Homo sapiens: one gene and its partner. The protein of the gene in region 2 interacts with the protein of the main gene of each other region in a pairwise test. Each region holds a gene or a part of one and is shown on either strand. Other genes may lie near its edges.

Region 1 (8,231 bases), on a different chromosome or scaffold from region 2:
TAATTTTTATATTTTTAGGAGAAACGAGGTTTCACCATCTTGGCCAGGATGGTCTCGATCTCTTGATCTCCTGATCTGCCCGCCTCAGCCTTCCAAAGTGCTGGGATTACAGGCGCGAGCCACTGCGCCCGGCCTACACACATTTCTTAAATGAGAGTTCCATATCCAAACCTCTTCCTTTTTCTTTTCTACTCATTACTCCAATGTGAGCTGGTCCATTCTCCCTTGTAGCTTTAATTACTTATCTATATGCAAACTTCTAACTCCAGCCTGCTCTCTCTGAACTCCAGACTAAAATGCACCTCCACCTGAATATCCCATAGGAACCTCTAACAAATGCTCAAAACTCAACTAATATCTTTATATTTCACCCCAATAAAAACCAGCTCCTCCTCATCTCAATCAACGGATTCACTATTACCTCAGTCATGCTAGCCAGAAACTGAGGAATCAATCAGCTAAGAGTTCCAAATCTAACTCCCAACATCCAAACTCTTATCAAGTCATATCAATTTTATCTCTTAAATATTCCTTGAATCCATGTCTTTCTGTAACTCCAAATGCTTAATTCAGACTCTCTTCACTTCTCTACTGGACTTTGTTTTTTTCTATTATACAACTGGCTTTTCTACTACCTGTAATGTTTCCCCTCCCAGGTCCATTCTCTACACTGGGGCTGGAGTTATCTTTCTAAAATACAAATCTGACGCCACCACCACTCTAGCTAAAATTCTTCAATGACTGCCCTATATCAAGAAAAATTCTAAACTCTGAATATGGTGCCAAGTACTTTAAGATCTGGCCTCACCCACTAATTGCAAGTATTCTGGGATCCAGTCATTCAGAACTACCTAGCGTTTCCCAAATACAAAATACTGATTCTTCAATCTATCCTTTGCTTATTTTGTGCCATCCATTTGTCCTAGAATGACTTTCCTCATCATCACTCCAGTGAAAGCTTATTCAACTATTTTAACACAAGTTAAAAGTCAAATCACACTGAAGGCCTCCCCTGACTTCCTTAGACAGAGTCAGGATCTTTCTACTAAATGACAGAGAATGGTCAGTGCTTGAGATCAGGACCAGACCCACCTGGGCTGAAATCCCAGGTTCACACGTTACCAGCTATGATTTTGAGCAAGGCCTCTAAAGCCTGTTTCCTCATCTCTAAAAATCAGTAACTACTTCACCAACTGTTTTGAGGATTAAGTAAGGAGTTGCATGCAAAATACTCCTCACAGCACCTGACATATTCAATAAATGTTACTGTTATGTGATTATTTCCTCTGGGCTCCTAGAGCAACTTGCACTTATCTCTACCACACTACTGTGATGACAAGACTGCCCATGCAGGATACAGACTATCTTTTTTCATCTCTTTATTCTCACCACCTGGCATAATGCCTGGCACATAGGTTCCTAACACATTTTGAATGAATAAATAAAATACTTCAAACCTTATGTTGTATCACATAAGGCCTCAATTTTGTTTTCTACCTGTCTTACTAAACCTACTTTCCATCTCCTCCTTGTACAAAATTGCAACCTCAAGTAAAATTTACACAGGTCAACTTCATTTTAATTAAGAGAAAGTTTTATAGGATTTGTGGTCTTTTTGTTTTTAAACACACACACACACAAACTCACAATAATATCAACAATTCTCCAACTTACTCCATAAAGCAGCAAATTTCTAGGATGGTTATCTACCTATTAAAAAATTTTAAAGGGTCGTCAAGGAAGGTTTCGTAAATCTGTGTCAGCTTCCTTTACCAGCAAGTCTTTGAGTCAACTCTAAGGACTCAAGTGTACTCCTGAACATAAAAAATATATAAAGAATTAACTAAATAATTAAAACATGGTATTTTTCCTTCCGAAAACATGCTGAGAAATTCTGAATAACACTGGAATAATCAAAGAATTATTGCTGCCTACTGCTAAAAAAGTCTGTTTTTAAAAGTTACTAGTAATTTAAAGCTGAACTAATCAAAATATGTGTAGGCAGTGTTCAGGCTGGCAAGGGGGGGGTGGGGTGGAGCACTCATTTCACAACCTTGAACCTCAAGAAATAAAATTCAAAAATGCAAAAAGTTAAAAATGCCAGATACCACCATATAATCGCAATGACATCTTTTTATCTATTTCCACACTTAACCTTTAAACATTACTGCCCTTTGAGTAATTACCAATTGATGGGTTTAATATGCAAACACCTCTGAGCTACTTTAAAACAAACATGACTAACCCAGAAATAAACGTATCCAGGAAAGGAGAAAAACCTGTTAAAACACGGTTTCTCAGGTCTCACATCCAATGTGTGACATACATACGGTTCTGCACCGAAAGGCAGCAACCTGCGAGGGTCAGAGGCGCCGAAGACCCGAGGCCCTGCAGCTTGGGCGGCTGCTCATCCCTGAGACTGTGCAGGGCGGTGGCCCAGCCGGGGTGGGGCTGAGCGCTGCAACTGGGGCGGGCCCAGCTACAGGGCGGGAAGCCCGAGGCTCACCTCCACTTCCCTTTCCCAACGCACAGAGCCCAGGTCCGCGACCACTCAACAGCCCCCTCAAGACAAAGAGAGATTTTTTTTTCTGTCCCGGTCCGCTCAAAGTTTATCGGTCTTTCCCGGCGGTCGGGGCCGCCGGGCTTTGTAGTTCGCCAGTCCGAGCTACCCCACCAAGACCGCGAGCCCGAGGAGTCGCTGAACTACAATTCCCATGATGCACCGCGAGCCTGGCGCTCCCGCGCCCCTCCCCGTCCCCGCACGGGAGCCAGCGCCCGAGGAACCCCGCAGCCCACTGCCCTGGCGTCTCCGGCAGTGGGAGGCCGAGAGGGGCTGTTGGCTAGAGCCCTCCACCACCTGCTGTCTCGCCCTCGCCCCTTTCTCTCGGATTCATTACCCAGAAGGCGCAGGTCCGGGCACATTCAGCGATGCGGTCCAGATGGGGTGCGGGTGGGGCGCAGGCCGCCGCCGCCGCCGCCGCCGAGTCCGTTAGCTCGCGACGTGCGTGAAAAGGCGGCGGCGGCGTAGTGTTGCCATGGCAGCCGCGGCCGCGCGGTGGGCGCAGCGCGGGAGGGAGCGCGGGGGCTGTGAGTCCGCTCTGGGGCGGAGCTTGGGACTCCCGCCCAGGTTGCCGGGGGGAGGGAGGTGCAGCGGCGCGGGGTGGGAGAGCAGGGAGACAGTGACATTGAGGAGGACGTGTGGCCGACTGAGCTCTGGTCGTGCTTGATGAGCCTGCCTCCACTGCGTCCAGCCCCCGTGGCAGGGCACCTTCGTGCCTGCTGCTTTCGGAGGTGATGCCAGTGGCGTCGAAGGAGGGGGCACCCGGGGCGTCGCAGCGCCTTTCCCGCCGCCTGTCCAGGCGTCCGCCGCTGGGTCTGCCCCCAAGGGATGTGTGGATCCTACGCCACCTCTGTGTTTTTCTCCAGTCAAACCGAATTGAAGTCTTTCGCACCCCCTTTCTCCATTCTCTGGGGAGGGGGATAGAAGGGAATCCTTCGATAAGATGGAATGCATATGGCCTTTAGGATTATTCAGGAGGTTTTAGAATTTGCAAATGGCATTGCTTTCGACTGAATTTGGATTTATGCTGTTTCTTGGCAATCGTTTGTGGACTCTAGGATAAACAGGTTAAGAGCGTGGGCTTCTAAAACGAATTCTTAGTTCACGTCCTGCCCCTGTGCTTGGTAGCTGATGACCAGAGGCGCCTTTCTCACCTCTTAACGTTTTGATCTGCAAAAATGGAGATATCCATCTTGCAACTCTTGTAAGAAATACACGCATTAATACTGATGAAGCTCTATAAAACAAAGCTTAGCATTTAACAATAGCTATTAAATATTAATTATTTAATCAATAGTGATAAAAGTCAGAATAGTGGTTGGCTGTCGGGGAGGAGTTTGAGAGAATTTTTTGTAGTGATGAAAAAATTCTATAGCTAAGAGTTTCGGTTACAGAAGTATATGCACTTGTCAAAACTCTTGGAATGGGACATTTAAGATTTGTACATTTCACTGCATGTAAATTTACCTCAAAAGAGAACATAAAAATGTGTTGTTATTATTATTAGAGCTATAGACTCTAATGGAAACTACAGAGATATTCTAGGCCCAATCTCTAGATTTTATAGATGGGAAAACTGAGGCCCAGAAATTTAATAGAAAAAAAGAGGAAGGGGAGTGAATTCGTGACCTTGTCATTTTCTAGTAATGAATATCTCCTGAAAAATTATGGTTGAAAATAACAAAAATGGCTCCTGTAATCCAGCTGAGTCATCCTACCACAGAGATTTTCTTGAACTTGACTGAGTCCCTTATCCACCTTGTGGTGTTCCCCACGGCCAATGTCCTCTCAAGGATTGCACCGTCACTTCTGGCTCTCAGTTCTTGCTTTTCCTGAACACTTAGACCTCTCCACATATCACCTCTTACAACTCTCCTCTCTCTACTCCTGCTGACACATAATTTCGAAATCAGCCCCTTTTCTTTGGTTGTTTCTATAGCCAACTCTTTAGAAGGTTTGGAGCAGATAAGTGGTTTTAAATTAAGGATGCAAAAAACCTAAAATTAGAAATCCCTGCTCTTAAAAGTCCTTCAGTTCCTCCCATGATATTTTTATCCACCTACCACCTACCCCCATTTTTTCATCATAACCTGTAACCTCCCACTATTGTACCATCTTTCTGGTCCCATCTCTCCCCTCCTCTCCTCTCTTTATACAATACTTTTATTTCCATCTCCTAATCTGTGCCTTCATAGCTACCTGCCATTCCTAAACTGTTTACCAAAGTTTTTTCCTACACAAAGTAACTTCCCAAGAGGAACTCTGGAGCCAGCTATTAAAATAATATTTTTTCACATATGTATCCTCATATTCTATTTGATTCAGTCCACAGTGTAGCTGCTCAATAAATATTAAGCAGCTTACGTACATGACCTGTTGATATAGTTTGGCTGTGTCCCCACCCACCTCTCACTTTATTGTAATAATTCCCACCTGTCAAGGGCAGGGCCAGGTGGGGATAATTGAATCATGGGCGCGGTTTCACCCGTACTGTTCTTATGGTAGTGAATAAGTCTCATGAGATCTGATGGCTTTATAAATGGGAGTTCCCCTACACAAGCTCTTTTGCCTGCCACTGTGTAAGAAGCCCCTTTGCTCTTCCTTCATCTTCCGCCATGATTGTGAGGCCTCCCCAGCCATGTGGAACTGAGTCCATTAAAACTCTTTCCTTTATAAATTACCCTGTCTTGGTTATGTCTTTATTAGCAGCATGAAAACGGACTAATACACCTGTCCTGGCTACCTTCACAGTGGGTTCACTTATGAAACCCATTTTCTTACATCCATAATAATGGTTTACTCTAGTATAAATGAGGAAGCTATGTGATAATAGCTGGAATCTGCTGTCTAAGAGGAAGAAAAGAAACCAAAGTAACCATAGCTTGTACAGAAGAAATGACAGCACTTAAGAGATGAAGTCCGGAACAAAGTCTGGTATGAAGCCATAGGACATCCTTATAGGAACTTGGACCTGTCACCTGCAGCAATTTGGTCACAACTCTGCATATGTAATGAGCATGTAAATAAATTCTCCTTTACTCCTGGAGAAGATGTTACTGATCTGCTACCAGCTGAACACATGTTTGTAGTAGGGATGATAGGTTCACCGGATCCATCTCTCCCTGATCTGGTTTCCCTTGTGACCGATCACTTGTCTTTCTTTGCAAGGCAGCTGGCCAAGGTTGTAGTGCAGCCTACAGCCATGACGAAGTCTCCAAAGACAAGGTCCCAATGCATAACGCTCCTTGTTTTGTGAAGCCAGGATCCCAGAAAATCAGCTCAGCAGGACAGGCCACTTGAGAATGGATGACAGCAGCACAAACAAAAGCTGTCACAAAAGTGAGTTGGAGGTGGGCAGTCGCGGGAGGGAAGACCACAAGCCACTGAAGCACAGCCTTAAAATGCCTCGCATGGCTATGGACAGGTAGGAACGAATAAGGACCGATAGTAAACCATAGTTTATTGTTTTCACCAGATACTTTGGACCTGTTCAAGTGATAGTTAAACACCCTATACAAATCCAAAAGATGGAGCTGAAAGTAGTAGCACATTAATCCACACAGGCAGTGTGGTCAAGAGCCACCACCCTCATTTACAGCGCATCTGGTTTACAGTTGAGGTCTTTCCTCAGTTCTTAGAGTTCTTGGCCTCTCTGGCATTTGACTTTGCTGACTACCCTCCTTGGTGGGTCCTTGACCTTGGATCTCTTCAGAGCTTTCCAACCAGACTTCATTATGTTATTCACCAGCTCTTTTACCTGCTTCTTAAATGTGAGGATAGTTGCCAAGGTTCAGTCACTACACCTTTTCCATTTGCAAGCTTCCGCCTTGGCCGTGGGTGATGCTCCAATTTCTCTTGCTAGTTCTGATCCACAAGTTCCAGCACTGCACAAGCAGGCCCACTCTTCCTTAACTTGTTCTGTTACTTCTGTTCTCTTCGTCTAAGATACCAGCGCCTTACCCTATCTAAGGTCTACGTATTCTGAAAACAAACCTTCACATGAAACCTTTCCAGATCATTCCTGCTCAGTCATATCACCCTGCTCTGTGCTCAGAATATTTCCTGCCAATCTCACTCCCTTGACAGCTGACCATACTGCTGAGTGGCTGCTCAGTATTGTTTACTCATTGGCTTTTTGTCTTTTCTCACTATATTTCAAGCTCCTCCAACGTGTATTTCTGGGTATTCTCAAAAACACCTTCATAATACTCTACATATAATAAGGGCACAATAAATGTTTTTGATTGGTAGTTCTTTTATCTTTTCCCCTTAGCAAAACTTCCTTTATCTGGTAGCTCTCCCTCTTCTAGTACTATGCAGGACATTTGCAGCCTCTTGATATAAATTTCCCTGAAGCCTATAACTGTGGGCCCCCATACATATTCAGTGGAGGAGTACCTTGGGAGGTAATTCCTTAAGTCGCTGTTGCTGTGGAAGGAATTCAGTATGTAAGTAGCACTGAATTCCAACGTTCAGGCCCTCTTACCGTAAAGATCTAGAGCAGAGTTTTCCTCACTGTGGGTCACAGTCTATTAGTAGGTCATGAAGTCAATGTGATGGGTCTCTTCCGGCTTTGTCATATTTAAAAAGTGATAAGGTAAGGTAGTGTAGGGTAAAGTAGAATGCAATAGAATGCGGTAGAAAATGAAATCCAGAGGGTATGTGCATGGTTAGGGTCAAGTATCGTATGGCAGTTACTGAGCTGTCATCTTTCAGCTTCAAACCTACCCTCTGTCCTCTGCTTTGTGTTGGTGGGGCTAGAATTGTGCAAACCACATTTCTCCTCTGTCATCTGGGTGGAGAGGCTGGGGCAGCACAGCAGGACCAGAGGAAGAGCACAAGGCTGGAGGAGAGGGAAGCAACTTGCTCCTTCCTGACAGCCTGCTATGCTTGGCAGCATCACTCCTGCCACAGACTTTTAGCCTGGTGGCAGTTTTACTTGTCTCCAGCTTCTTATTGTATCTCAACCAGCCTCATCGCATCTCTTCTCCCTCCTCCCCAAAGCATTACCTGCAGCAGCAGCCAGACAGTGTCCCTCTTCAGGAGCCTGTGCCCCAGCTTCAACAGGCCTTTCCTACAAACCCCAACCTCCTCTCCTCCCTTTGATCTCCAGCCCTTCAGGCGGGAGCTGCTTCTTGCAGTTATAACCTATGTATTACTCCAGTGTTCCTTTTTTAATTTTTCAGTCCTTGAACATCTGTCTAATCAATTCCCTGTGCTAAATTCTTGCTCTTAAAATACCTACTTAAAGTTTCTTTTTTCCTGACTGAACCCTGACTAATATGGATTGTTAAGTAAGATGTACTTCCTGCCATAAGTGTCCATCAAAAGGGTTTAAGAAACACTGCTTTAGAGGATTGGGAGTTCTTAAATAGCCAGATGACCTGAGATGCAGCTAAGGGGCCAGTCCTAACATGTAGAGGTACTCTGGATTTCAGGTCCATGAAAAGCAAAGATCCTGTTCCACTATAGCAGTTGTCACTGTTGGACCCCAGTCACAGCCTGACCTGTAGGGATCACTAGCGGTGAGCCTGCAGTTGTCCATCAGAGTATGGCCTGAACCCATATGGAATCTGTCCTCTCTCAGATATGCAGAAATTCAGCTTCTTTACTTGTTACAGTTTTACTCGTTATTAGCAAGTGAGAGGAAGCAGAAAGTTAATGATGAAGA
Region 2 (7,746 bases):
AGGACCTCTTTTCCTGGTAATATAAGAAAGAACTTAACTTCTAATTTTAGAGTACTGAGTCCATTTCTCTGGAGTCTGTTTTTTTTCCTGAATGGGCCATTGCTATCTTTCTGCTTGAATAAACTCTTCAAACTGAAATCTGAACCTTTGAATTATTTCGGGCTGGCAAGTCCAAATAAGGCGACTGCATCTCTGCAACCAATCAAGCATTTATCTGGTTTGTCTCCTCATGTACCTTATAAAAGCTGAGGCTTCAACCTATAAACTAAAAATAAAAATCTATCTTCTGGCCTGGCGAGGTGGCTCACATCTGGAATCTCAGCACTTTGGGAGGCCGAGGCAGGTAGGTAACTTGAGGTCAGGAGTTCGAGAACAGCCTGGCCAACATGGTGAAACCCCATCTCTACTAAAAACACAAAAATTAGGCAGGCGTGGTGGTGCATGTGGGGAAAAGAGAGATCAGATTGTTACTGTGTCTACATAGAAAAGGAAGACATAAGAAACTCCATTTTGGTATGTACTAACAAAAATTGTTCTTCTTTGAGATGCTGTTAATCTGTAACTTTAGCCCCAACCCTGTGCTCACAGAAACCTGTGCTGTATTGAATCAAGGTTTAATGGATTTAGGGCTGTGCAGGATGTGCCTTGTTAACAATATGTTTGTAGGCAGTATGCTTGGTAAAAGTCATCACCATTCTCCATTCTCGGTTAACCAGGGGCACAGTGCACTGCGGAAAGCCGCAGGGACCTCTGCCCAACAAAGCCTGGGTATTGTCCAAGGTTTTCCCCCACTGAGACAGCCTGAGATCCGGCCTCGTGGGAAAGGAAAGACCTTACCATCCCCCAGCCTGACACCCCTAAAGGGTCTGTGCTGAGGAGGAATAGTGAAAGAGGGAGGCCTCTTTGCAGTTGAGATAAGAGGAAGGCTTCTGTCTCCTGCTCGTTCCGGGGAATGGAATGTCTCTGTGTAAAGCCGACCATTCATTCTATTCTGAAATAGGAGAAAACCGCCCTGTGGGAGGCAAGATATGCTGGCAGCAATACTGCTCTGTTACTCTTTGCTACACTGAGATATTTGCATAAAGTGAAACATAAATCTGGCCTACCTGCACATCCAGGCACAGTATCTTTCCTTGAACTTATTCATGATACAGGTTCCTTTGCTCACATGATTCCCTGCTGACCTTCTCCCCACCATCACCCTGTTGTCCTGCCACACTCCCCTCGCCAAGATAGTAAAAATAGTGATCAATAAATACTGAGGGAACTCAGAGACCAGCGCCGGTGCAGGTCCTCGCATGTTGAGCGCCGGTCCCCTGGGCCCACTGTTCTTTCCCTATACTTCGTCTCTGTGTCTTATTTCTTTACTCAGTCTCTTGTCTCTACCTGACAAGAAACACCCACAGGGGTGGAGGGGCAGGCCCCCTTCAGGTGCGTGCCTGTAATCCCAGCTACTCAGGAGGCTGAGGCTAGAGAATTGCTTGAATCCGGAAGGTGGAGGTTGCAGTGAGCCGAGATTGAGCCATTGCACTCCAGCCTGAGTGACAGAAGGAGACTCTGTTTTAAATAAAAACAAAAACAAAGTACCTTCCCAGGTAAGTGAAGTGACCGGCTCTTGGCCAAGGGAACCCCCAAAAAACCCTGAAAATTGAGTGCCTCTGTATGACAGGATGGGAGGTGAGACAGGCCTCCTTATACCCTCTCCCTTTAGGAGTTTACATGCAGCAACTGACGCACATTCATGTAAAAACAGACATTATCTGACTGGAAAAACAGACTCCTTGTGGCAAGAAGATACCAAATTACAAACAAGACCTAAGGCCACGCAAGACAAGGGTAAGTCACACCTTAGAATTCATAAAATCTAGAGAAACAGGTCTGTTTTTTGGCTGGGATGGAATCAAGTGGCAGATAACAGACCCCCTTCCTTCAGCATTCCTTCCTACCTCCTCCAAACTTTAGACAAAGCTTCACACTCTCAACCAGCTGCCACCTACAGAATCCCTCAACCACCTGTGCCTTCTAACCCCCCTTCCACAGGTCCCGCCCTTTCTGTTTTTTGTTTTTGTTTTTGTTTTGAGACAGAGTCGCACTCTGTGCTGAGGCTGGAGTGCAGTGGCACTGTGTGGGCTCACTGCAACCTGTCTCCTGGATTCAAGTAATTCTCTTGTCTCAGCCTCCCGAGTAGCTGGGATTACAGGCGTCCACCATCACGCCCGGCTAGTTTCTTTTTTATATTTTTAGTAGAGACGGGGTTTCACCATGTTGGCCAGGCTGGTCTTGAACTCCTGACCTCAGGTGATCCGCCCGCCTTGGCCTCCCAAAGTGCTGGAATTACAAGCGTGAGCCACCGTGCCCGGCCAGGTCCCTCCCTTTCTGCCTAAGGAAATTACACCTTCCAGGCACTAATTCATGATTTTCCCTGCAATTCCTGTCTCTCTAAAATGAATAAAACCAAACTGTCTTGAGCCGCCTCGGGACCACTTACTCCAGGCTTCTTGGGGTTGTTTTTCCCTCGGCCAAGGTCTCTCCTATTCGGCTCCGAATAAACTTCTTTATTTTACATAGTTTGGCTTTTTCCGTTGACAAACCACAAGCCAGGACTGGGTGTGTCTCATTCGTGAATCGCTGTTTGCTCAAATGAACTCTTTGTTAACGTTCCTCAGTTTAATTTTTAACAGGAGAAAAAGTGGACACTGGGGGCCCCACAGACCGCTGCTCCTCCCAAGCACGAACCCCACACCCGAGTCGGGATCACCCACATGACCCTCCCGTGGCCCCCGCACAATCTGGGTAGACGCGTGGCTGCGGGCGCGGAGCTGCCCATAGAGGGCTCTGGAACCGCAGTCGCCGCGCAGAGACGAGACAGGACGCCTGGTGTCCCGGCTACCGGCCCAGCCACACCGAGCAGTCGAGGGGACCGAGGGCCGAGCGGCTCCAGGAGGACTCGGTCCCAGATCCCAAAGTCGCCCGCAGGAAAGCCAGGGTCTCGCCACAGTCGGTTCCGGTCGGTCCAGGCAGCCCCTCCCCCGTCTCACGACACCCGGCCCCAGACACGCACCATTTCCTGGCTTTCAGATGTCCCGGGGTCCTCTCTACACCTCCTGTGACTACAGCAGGGCATAGCGTAGGTGACAGAGTGACAGAAGCCTGGGCAGAGGAACCAGGTCCCTCTCGGGGCTGGAAAGACCGGATCCCAGCCGCAGCCCGCGCAGGGACAAAGGTGAGGTAAGGAATGCGACCCCCTCAGTGTCTGGAGGAACAGTGGGCAGGGACCCGCCACAATGCCTCTGATTGGATGGAATGCTAGGCCCCGCCCCCCATGTCTGAGTGACAGCGGAAGCCCTGGGTATCGGGCCCTGCAGAGCCAGACAGACGGATTCTGACCACAGCTTTTCCAAGGGCGAGCTCCTTCCTGCACTCTGGTTATTGGATATTTGCATTTCAGCCAAACTTGCTATTGATAGAGGAGAACACTAGCGTCTTCCTCACTCAAGGGACTGTCCCTGCTCCTTCGTTCTGCATGGGGTCACAGGAGTGTGCAGGGAATTTCAGATTCAGTGTCCACAGGAGCCATCTCCTGCCTCAGAGCAGCAGGGGAACCGAGACCAGGCCAGACACGACTGCGCCAGGAGGAGAGGCATATGTCTTGGAGCGGGCCGCAACTGGGGATGAGGCATGGCTAAGACTTGCTCTCACACCCCCATCCCCTCCTCACAGTGTGAAAATGCTTCCTCCTTCCAGATCTTCATTTTCACCAGCAGGAAACTCTCTCCAGGGGTTAAGTTAAGCTTTTGACCTAAATAAACTGCCAACTTCATGAACCCTTTATCCAGGTGACGCTCCCAAACATTTCTGTCTCTAGCCTGATCTTCACACATTTTCTTTTCTTTTTTTTTTGAGACAGAGCCTCGCTCTGTCCCCCCAGGCTGGAGTGCAGTGGTGCAATCTCCACTCACTGCAACCTCCGCCTCCTGGGTTCAAGTGATTCTCCTGCCTCAGCCTCCCCAGCAGCTAGGATTACAGGCACATGCCACCGCGCCTGGCTAATTTTTTGTATTTTTAGTAGAGACAAGGTTTCACCATGTTGACCAGACTGGTCTTGAACTCCTGACCTCAAGTGATCCACCCGCCTCGGCCACCCAAAGTGCTGGGATTACAGGCGTGAGCCACCGCGCCTGGCCCACATTTTCTTTATATATATGAATATCTCTGTCGGATATAAAATGCTTTAGGAATAAATTCTTGGTCCCACGAAGTAAAACTAGCACTTAGGGGAAAGTTTCATTTGTTTAGCAAGGCAATTTACTTCTGCAGAAGTGTGCCACTTGTGTCAATCAAGATCACAAGAGCACAGAGAACAAAGGTCACCGGGGGTTTTTTTATCCTTAATGCGGTCCCTATCTCTGTGTCACTCCTTCATGGGCTGGGGTTCGACCACACAATCTGAGCTGACCCGACTGGCTACTTGTACGTATTTTTCTAAATATAGAAGGAGAGGGGAACGTGAGGTACAGAGATGGAGCGTGTGAGACGTGCAGTTTCGGGGGAACAATGGGTACAGGTAACCAAGGGAACAGATGTGAGTTATTGATTAGAGCTGACGGGAAGGGGGTAGGCTGTTTTACAGTAACTAGGGGCAAGGAGGAACAGGAAAGTTGAGCTGGAGAACAAAAGACAAGGAAGTTAGCAGGCTAAGTCTTTGAAGAGAAACTCAGAGAGGCCAGGCGCGGTGGCTCACGCCTGTAATCGCAGCACTTTGGGAGGCTGAGGCGGGTAGATCACGAGGTCAGGAGATCGAGACCATCCTGGCTAACATGGTGAAACCCCGTCTCTACTAAAAAATACGAAAAATTAGCCAGTCGTGGTGGTGGGCGCCTGTAGTCCCAGCTACTCGGGAGGCTGAGGCAGGAGAATGGCATGAACCCAGGAGGCAGAGCTTGCAGTGAGCCGAGATCACGCCACTGCACTCCAGCCTGGGTGACAGAGTGAGACTCCGTCTCAAAAAAAAAAAAAAAAAGAAACTCAGAGAAATTTACTGTATGTTACAATTCCTCCCTTTTAATTTTCTTATGATTTTTTCTCTTTAAACTTTTTTAACGTGTTTTGGCTTTGCTGTTTGATTTGATCTTTTAAAAGGAAAAGCTTACTTGAATAAGGTGGAGGAGAACTAAGGGAGGTTTCAGTAAATGCTGTTCGTACAATCCTTTGTATTAGCCTACGGATGCATGGTATGACACAACGCCTAACAAGAATAAGTACACCTGTTACGACTGTAAAAGAAATAAGTATTGAGGCTATGATTCTTTATTGACTGAACTACTTTCCTAGCCATCTTGAAATAGGGTCATTGACTCCAGAAATTTTAGCTAATTCATTGGATAAAGCGGTAAGTCTTTGCAAGGCCTTTGTTATGCTCTCACTGGGGGCAGTGTTGTTTGGAATGAAGGTACAACACTGGGTTTTAATCATAACACAAACTCCACCTTTTTTGGCTAATAACATGTCTGGAGCCATTCTGGTTTTTATTTTTTGAGATGGAGTCTCACTTCGTGGCCCAGGCTGGAGTGCAGTGGCACCATATTGTCTCACTGCAAGCTCTGCCTCCCGGGTTCACGCCATTCTCCTGCCTCAGCCTCCCCAGTAGCTGGGACTACAGGTGCCCGCCACTACGCCCGGATACTTTTTTTGTATTTTTTAGTAGAGACGGGGGTTTCACCATGTTAGCCAGGATGGTCTCGATCTCCTGACCTTGTGATCCGCCCACCTTGGCCTCCCAAAGTGCTGGGATTACAGGCATGAGCCACCGCGCCCAGTCAAGTGATTCTGTTTTCTTAAGCTATTTGGCTAGTAGGCCTTAACTGGTCAGCTGTTTTTTGATAAGATCCTTGGTGTAATTCATAAACTGCTGCTAATTATAATAGATGTAATTTATCGAAGCTACATTTTTATTAATAGTTATTCGGGGAAATATGGGTTTAAATCTTGCAGTTATTTGGTCTCAGGTTTTGAACTTGTTAGGCACTCCCCATGGGACTCTAATGGCCTTTATGTAAACTTGAGAGTCAAAAGACTTATAAGGGGCTTCTCTTATTTTTTGGTGTTGTGGCTTTTCTTTTTTTTTGGTTGATGAAATGCCAGTGTGAAAGGGATCGCCAATTGGACAAGAGCGCAAGTGCCGCTCCAGTTACTTGGCAGAGTATCCAGTAAAGGTCCACTACAATACCACCATACATCTGCTTGAGGATGACTAAGGGCAGACTGATGGGTAAGTTTTTGGAAGGGCTTAAGCTTATTGCATCTTGTTAAGCTTCTAAGGAACGCCAGATTCTCCCCTCGTCGTGAGAGACATGAGGTGAAATTGACGTCAGGAGAAGGAAGCTGAATGGCCTTTGGGGGCTGGCCTGCAGGTTGTTGGACTTCGGGATATAGCAGAGAGAGAGCTTGGCATGATTTGTTGCCCCAGGCTGTGGAATTTTGGAAAAGAGCTACCATACAGCCTATGCCTGGTCGGCTGAAGGGCTATCCTAGTGGAAAGGAAACAGTCTGGGCCTCTAGTCTGCCATGCATACAAGCGTAACAATTGCTTTTGTTCAATGTGCGGACGGAATATTGAATCCATTCCAACCAGGTATTTACATCTTGATATCCTGTTTTAATTGCTAGGGTTTGTCTTAAATCTTTTACTTCTACAATATTTACTTTAGTAGTATCATTAGGTAGAAAACAGGTGGCAGTCTGATTAGAAGAAAGCTTAGAAGGAGAAGAGAAGGAAGGGGGTGAAGAGAATGAAGGATTAATAAAACGCATTTCGAAAGATCTTATGAGGTCTGTGCTGGCCAAGTTGGCTCCTGTTCCATAGAAGTGACTTAAAGTAGGTTTAGGGTCAGTAGAGGTGGAAATTTGTATGGGATTACATTGATTATACTGGCAATTGGGGAGGTGCTTTTTTTAGTGAAATGAATGTATGGTTTTAAGGATATACAGCCACCTGCTGATGAGGTCTAGCCTTGACATTTGGTTGTCCATAGGACATCATTCTAGCTATGACAGACTTGTTTTCTTATATTTGTTAAGGAACAAGAGTCTTGGTAGGGGGGGCCTTTCACCTTAAAGGGGCAGAGATACTTTTCTGAGGCTGAGACTTGTCTTTGACTTTGGAGATCTTTACAGGGTATGACTAGACATAGCATTAAACGTGATAACTTGGGGTGAGTTTGATTGAGTTACATTAATGACAAGGTGGTCAGCATTGGAAGGGGAAAAGAAGAAAGAGTAATAGAATAGATGTAAGAGGTTAAATTTTTCTTAGCTTTAGTTTGAGGGGGTTTTCCCCTGGAATAATGGCCTACGACTTTGGGGGTGGCGGTGCTTTCTTGACTCGGGTGTGATGGGTCTATCCTTTCTCTGCTGTCCAGACTGCAGTTTCAATGGTGGGAAGTACTAGGCCAGCTCCTCAGGCCGGTGTTGACGCACTGGGAACTCCAGGAGCCGCACCTGTACTGGAAAATTGTGAGTTTTGAGGGAAGAGAAAGTGGAAGATAAACCAAGTATGTAGGAATGTTGGCAGTGGATTGCTTTGAGAGGTAGTTTGGATTAATAGGAAGACAGAAGACATTTGAGTTATGGCAACTAAGTTTCTAGACTTGTTTGGCTAAGGATGTACATTTTCATACACATATAAACTTTAACTGTGCTATACATAGCTTGAGGTCTTTAATGGGTCCTCTAATTTAGGTGGGATAG

The links.
Region 1: the proteins of ZNF69 (region 2) and KATNAL1 interact in binary tests that used the Homo sapiens proteins (3 or more experiments, as listed by UniProt).

The regions. Positions count from the first base shown.
Region 1 is NC_000013.11:30,304,434-30,312,664, forward strand, and holds the start of KATNAL1 (katanin p60 ATPase-containing subunit A-like 1), read right to left. Parts: upstream 3,119-8,231; 5' UTR 2,898-3,118; intron 2,579-2,897; exon of another isoform or gene 2,507-2,578; intron 2,424-2,506; exon of another isoform or gene 2,246-2,423; intron 1-2,245. UniProt on the Homo sapiens protein: Regulates microtubule dynamics in Sertoli cells, a process that is essential for spermiogenesis and male fertility. Severs microtubules in an ATP-dependent manner, promoting rapid reorganization of cellular microtubule arrays.
Region 2 is NC_000019.10:11,883,302-11,891,047, reverse strand, and holds the start of ZNF69 (zinc finger protein 69), read right to left. Parts: upstream 3,267-7,746; 5' UTR 3,125-3,266; coding exon 3,062-3,124; exon of another isoform or gene 2,489-3,061; intron 1-2,488.